Homo sapiens: one gene and its partner. The protein of the gene in region 2 purifies or fractionates together with the protein of the main gene of each other region. This does not show direct contact. Each region holds a gene or a part of one and is shown on either strand. Other genes may lie near its edges.

What was found.
Region 1: the proteins of ADAP1 (region 2) and ANP32A purify together in Homo sapiens (co-purification; one study listed by BioGRID). This does not show direct contact.

The regions. Positions count from the first base shown.
Region 1 is NC_000015.10:68,778,035-68,780,465, forward strand, and holds the end of ANP32A (acidic leucine-rich nuclear phosphoprotein 32 family member A), read right to left. Parts: coding exon 2,376-2,431; intron 2,109-2,375; coding exon 2,047-2,108; 3' UTR 501-2,046; downstream 1-500. UniProt on the Homo sapiens protein: Multifunctional protein that is involved in the regulation of many processes including tumor suppression, apoptosis, cell cycle progression or transcription. Promotes apoptosis by favouring the activation of caspase-9/CASP9 and allowing apoptosome formation.
Region 2 is NC_000007.14:902,369-906,375, forward strand, and holds part of ADAP1 (arf-GAP with dual PH domain-containing protein 1), read right to left. Parts: intron 2,805-4,007; coding exon 2,692-2,804; intron 1,905-2,691; coding exon 1,758-1,904; intron 1-1,757. UniProt on the Homo sapiens protein: GTPase-activating protein for the ADP ribosylation factor family. Binds phosphatidylinositol 3,4,5-trisphosphate (PtdInsP3) and inositol 1,3,4,5-tetrakisphosphate (InsP4). Regulates the incorporation of CD63 and CD9 into multivesicular bodies.

The DNA of each region.
Region 1 (2,431 bases), on a different chromosome or scaffold from region 2:
TGAGGTGGGTCACGGGCTCTTCTGGAAACACTTTACACTGCTGGAATCACACAACAACTATAAGACATTGTAAGGAACTAGGGCTTGTTGTGGGTTCAAGGCTGTATAGAATGAATACATAAGAATGAGTATATGTGTACGTGTATAAACAACCACAGTAAACTGGCTGAACTCTTCTGGAAAACATGGAACCTTGTACATGAGCCTCATAAATGTTTTTAGCTTTTGGTCCAATGACTCTACTACTTCTAAGAGTTTGTACTAAGAACTCCACAAAAAGTATAAATAAGTAGTAATATAACAATATCCACTACAGGGGTAAGCTGGACATAATGAAAACATCTAACCATTTGGTTAGAATTAAGTAAATCAGAATATAGTTGATGGACTACTATGTAGCCATTTAAGATACATGCTTTTGAAAATTAAAGAAACAGGGAAATGATTATAATACTGTTAAGTAAAGTAACAAAATAAAACACCATATGTAAACCTCTGGGTTTGTGAAATAATTTGTTTTATAAACATTCCTGAGTTTTCAACCATACATTCTTTTTACAATACGACAAACAAAACAATGAAAGATATTCAAAACAAGGTTCCAAGGTTGGCCCAACTTGATTGTTTGGGTACTTGTTTTTTTAGTAACTCTGTAACTTTTTTAAAGGAAGCTTTTAATGAAGATACACCACTGAGTCTTGCTTTAAGACCAAAAATATCCAAACATAGTATCACATTATATATATCTCATAAGAAAAGCTATTCTATCAGGTAACAAAAATGAAGCTTCCCCCTCACCTAGCAGTTCATCTGGAATGCATCTTGAAAAGATCAATGGCCTGTTGGACTCAAAGAAGCCATCCCCAAAAAAATTGTATAAAAAGATTTATTGAAATTTATCAATGACAAACAGACATAAAACTCAAAGTTTGGCTCTTCTGAGGGGCAGGAGAAAAACTGGTGCAGATGTTCTTTTATACAGATGAAACATGGGTTCAGAAATTACACGTCACTTCTAAAGCAACCAGAAGAGGGACACGAAAGCAAACCTGTACATTCACTAGGAATTTGCAGTCATTTCAGATTTCCACTAGGTAAGAAAATACAATTTTGCGTTAGTTTTTCCGTGCTCGGGTGTATGAAAAAAAAAACCCAGCCGACATGCAGCAACGTCTCCAGCGCTTAGGTCCGTAAAAATGTTCTAAGCACAGAAGTACATGTGGAAGAATTCTCTCATCATTTTTTGTAAAACAAAGCGTTCTAATATTTTACAGAACAAGATAGGACAGTTTTTTTTTTCTTTTAAAGAAGTTGAAGTTTGAAGGTGTGTTTCTTCTAATTTTAATTACCAAATCCATTTTCCTTGTAACTTAACACAACAAGCCTGCGGTTTTCAGCTCTCTGGCTCATAAGCTCAAGAGTAACATCAGAGTCCTCTTTGTAGAGCGAAGCCCACCACCATCTGTGAAGGGGGAAAAGGGATGAGAGATGGGGAATGTCCCCAGACCAGTGCCAAAATACGCCTTTAGGTTGCTATTTACAAACCAGGGCGTTGGATGCCTCTAGCAGGCCTGAGAAAAGCAGGTATCATCATGTGAACCAAAGCAAAAGATATGGCTGGTGCTCAGCCCCTCCTGGGCATTGAGTAACCAAACTGAGACCAGCCACAGCCTTCCAACCAACCCAAGAGACTTGGGAAATACCAGGAAACGTAAGAGAACTCCAAACCATCCTCTTTGAGAGTCAGGAACAAATGCTCACTTAGTGTGTACTTAGCTATCGCATTTACAGGGACAAAAACCGGACACAAAGAAAAAGTAGGGGAAAAAAATAAAGAGTGGCAGTAAAAATAGTATTTTATTCCACCCCCACCCGCCATCCCTCCCCCCGCAACCCCCAGTACACTCTTCCCCTCTCGTTCCCACAGCAACGTTACAATCAGAAAAAAATAAGTTTCAGGGGGCAGGATTGGAGGGGGGGGGGAGAGGGGATATGGGTAAAAACAGTCAAATCACAATAGGAATTTTTCAAAATAGGTTATTCCACTTAGTCATCATCTTCTCCCTCATCTTCAGGTTCTCGTTTTCGCTTCTGACCCCTTTCTTCTTCTGGAAAAGTAAGAAAGCGGCATTTAGATTAGTTATTAATCCCACCTCTTTAACTCAACCCACCCAGTGAGAAGTCAGGGGACCCATGACTAGCAAGCTGTGCCATCCTTGGAAACCGAGGCAAGACATCTGCACAGCTGGAAGGGGAATCTGAGGCCTCTGACAGGAGTGTCCTGCCCACTGCCAGGGGCCTCTGAGTCTAAGCAATCTAAGGCCAAAGTGAAAGGGCCAGGCTGCTACCAGCTGAGAGTAAAAAGGCTGCCATACCACCAAGCTCTTCTTCATCTTCCTCGTCATCTACCTCTCCATCGTTATAACCTTCT
Region 2 (4,007 bases):
AATGACTTGAACCAGGGAGGCAAAGGTTGCAGTGAGCCGAGATTGCACCACTGCACTCCAGCCTGGGTGACAAGGGCGAAACTCTGCCTCAAAAAAAAAAAAAGAAAGAAAAGAAAGAAAGAAAAATAAATACTCCAAGAACCAAAGGCTCTCTGAAAAACTAAATGCATGACAGCAGAAACAAAACCCTCAACACAGTGTTGGAGACAAAGTTGAAGAAATTTCCCAGAAAGTAGAAGAAAAATGAACCAGTTTAAGAGCACCAATAACAGGAGTTTCAGAAAATGAGAACAGGGAAAGTGGAGGGAGGAAATCATTAGATAAGAAAGCAATCCCTGACCTCATGGAAACCAGTAACTGGACTGGAAGGGCCACCCTGGGCCTGTACCCAGCACATGAAAAGACGAGGGACCCTTGCCAACACACGCACAGCATTGGAGAATTTCAAAACCGCGGGACAAACGTACTAGGATGGAGGAATCCGTGGTGCAAAGCCTTCAGAATTAGCAGGAAAATTAATTCCAACCTAGAATTCTATATCTAGCCACAGTCTAAGCCAGGCAGGAGGTAGAACAGTCCAAGGTGCCAGGTGACCCCTTTCCCTCCAGGCACATCACTTCTACCAAGAGGAATAAGTAAACGAGAAAGACGTAGGACCCGGGCAGCAGGGCTCCACCCAGGAACCAGATGAGGCTGCAGGAGCGAGATCTCCAGGCCGTGGGAGTCGCAGGCTCCTGGTGCCCGACTGCCTCCAGAGACAACAGTCTGCGGAGAGTCTGCGGCAACACATGGTCAACTGCGGCAAGGAACACAGCCGCTTACTGTGGGAAGAGCGATCACAGCGTGCTCTGAGGCCAGGGGCTGCACCCGACTCGGCCCCCTAACAAACCCAGGGTCAGATGCCAGCGGAGCACGGCAGGCAGGGGACGGGCACGTGGGAGGGGATGGAAAGAGCTGGAACCTCTACTTCCACGTGGGAAGTTGTCAGATGGTGCCTAAAGTGGGTAAATCTGCAGCGACACCGGCAGCTTATTTTTGGATATGGGGACCAATTCCCAACGGGGGTTAGGAGGGACCTCAAACTTCTGTTTCTCAAGATTTAGGAACGATATAGCGCTTTAGACCGTGTGCACACAGACGTGTGATAAACATAGAAACAAGAACCTAAGTAACAAAGAGGCTGGGCCCACCGCTGCGCCCCCTGCAGCCTGGCCCAAAGACAAAAGGATAGCTTTTGTGGGGGTTTTACCTGGGTTCCCCCCAAGCCCTCCAGAGATGCGGGGTACACCCACCCTCCCCGCCGCCACACCAAGGGCAGCCAAAGGAACCCTACCCAAACCACCCCAGAGCCGGCTACCGTCCACATCTCCTCCCCGTAGGACCCCAGTTCCCCCCGAGGTCCCCTCTGGGCATTGTGGGGGCGGTGGATCCTCTAGCCCGAGCTGGCAGCCCCCACTGACAGGGCCAAGCTGGGTGGCCCCAGAGACAGCGTGGTGATCCGGCTCCTGGGCAGCCCGGCCCTGGGAAGCTGCCTTCCTGCACCTGTCTTCCCATGCTGCCCGGCGCCAGTGCCCACACTCCCACACGTCCAAGCACCCGCCTTCCCACGCTGCCCAGCCCGACTTCCCGCCTTCTCATGCCGCCTAGCTCAAGTGCCTACCCTCCCGTACCGTCCAAGCACCCACCTTCCTGCGCCACCCGGGCCTGAGGGCCCACCCTCCTGTGCCACCCGGGCCCGAGTGCTCGCCAGCACCCACCTTCCCGTCCTCATGGTAGATGAAGATGTTACGGGTGCTGTTGTCCTTCAGGTAGGTGACCTGCAGGCCGTGGGGGTGGCCGATCTTGGCCGGCTGGAAGGTGGCGTTCAGGTGCTCGATCTTCATCACGGCCTTGGGCTCCTTGGCCTGAGAAGGGGTGGGGTCTAAGCACCTCACAGGGGCCGTCGTCCAAGCTCAAGGGAGCAGGAAGGGCAGACCCTGTGGGTGCTGGCGGCGCACCTGCTGTGCTGTGTGGCTTTGGGCAAGTTACTTAAGCGCTCTGAGCCTTGGCCTCCCGGTCTGTAAGCAGAAGGTAACAGCACCTCCCTCCCAGGAGTGATGGGGACCTCAACGACACTGTGCAGGTGGCACTTGACATCAGACACTGCACCTCCCTCCCCGGGGGCAGCCCCGGGCCCCACACGGCACGGCAGCTCCCACAGGGGCAGGCCCCAGCCACCAGCCCACCTCCAGCCAGTGCCCGCCACGGCTCAGGGCGGGTGCTTCTGACCATCAGCCCATGGGTCTGGGGCCACCTTGTGAAGACCCCACTGTTCTTGCCAATGTGTTTGTCCTGTCCCAGTCCAGTCTCCCCAGGGTACCTCCAGGAAAACTAGGGGCTTTCTGGGGTCCTGGCTGGCTCCAGAGGGGCCCAGTGACTAGGTTCTCCCTCTCCCACGGCTGGGCCTGAGTTCAGGGGGCCCCGCCCGGCCGCCCAGGCTCCTGGAAAGCCTCAGCTGCCCCACCCTGGGGGACGCTGGGTCCGGCACACAGAGGCTCAGCCCAACACAGGCCGGTTCTCCTGGAGCGTCCCCATCGGGGGGGGCAGCAGGGAGGGCAGCTGCGGATGGACGCGGCCACCACAGGCCCCAGTGTGGGAGGCCGGGATGCCGCCCTGGGACAGGCCCCCACCCCACCCCCGTCTGTGACTCACATCATTTCTGTTGAAATACTTCAGAGCACCCTCTCGTTCTGTCAGCACAAACTTCCGGCTCAAAAACTGCCCGTTGTCCCGGCCACGCTTCCAGAGAAAACCCTCACGGTACCCTGTGGGGGAAAGGGGACACGAGTCGGTGACAGTGGATGGGGGGGAGGAAACAAAAGGAGTGACGATGGACAGGACAGAGGGGACATGGGGAGAAGACACGGGGGACACGGACGGGGGACACGGACAGGGGGAGACGGACGGGGAGAGGGGACATGGAGGAGACAGGGAGATAGGAAGATGGGCAGGGAAAGGGAAAGGGAAAGGAGAAAGGAGAAAGGAGAAAGGAGAAAGGAGAAAGGGAGAAAGAGAAAGGAGAAAGGAGAAAGGGAGAAAGGGAGAAAGGGAAAGGAGAAAGGAGAAAGGGAAAGGAGAAAGGAGAAGGGAGAAGGGAGAAGGGAGAAGGGAGAAGGGAGAAGGGAGAAGGGAGAAGGGAGAAGGGAGAAAGGAGAAAGGAGAAAGGAGAAAGGAGAAAGGAGAAAGGAGAAAGGAGAAAGGAGAAAGGAGAAAGGGAAAGGAGAAAGGGAAAGGAGAAAGGGAAAGGAGAAAGGAGAAAGGAGAAAGGGAAAGGAGAAAGGAGAAAGGAGAAAGGAGAAAGGAGAAAGGAGAAAGGGAAAGGAGAAAGGGAAAGGAGAAGGGAGAAGGGAGAAGGGAGAAAGGAGAAAGGAGAAAGGAGAAAGGAGAAAGGAGAAAGGAGAAAGGAGAAGGGAGAAGGGAGAAGGGAGAAGGGAGAAGGGAGAAGGGAGAAGGGAGAAGGGAGAAGGGAGAAAGGAGAAAGGAGAAAGGAGAAAGGAGAAAGGGAAAGGAGAAAGGGAGAAAGGAGAAAGGGAGAAAGGAGAAAGGGAGAAAGGAGAAAGGGAGAAAGGAGAAAGGGAAAGGAGAAAGGAGAAAGGAGAAAGGAGAAAGGGAAAGGAGAAAGGAGAAAGGGAAAGGAGAAAGGAGAAAGGAGAAAGGGAGAAAGGAGAAAGGGAAAGGAGAAAGGGAGAAAGGAGAAAGGGAGAAAGGAGAAAGGGAGAAAGGAGAAAGGGAGAAAGGAGAAAGGGAAAGGAGAAAGGAGAAAGGAGAAAGGGAAAGGAGAAAGGAGAAAGGAGAAAGGAGAAAGGAGAAAGGGAAAGGAGAAAGGGAGAAAGGAGAAAGGGAGAAAGGAGAAAGGGAGAAAGGAGAAAGGGAGAAAGGAGAAAGGGAAAGGAGAAAGGAGAAAGGAGAAAGGAGAAAGGGAAAGGAGAAAGGAGAAAGGGAAAGGAGAAAGGGAGAAAGAGAAAGGA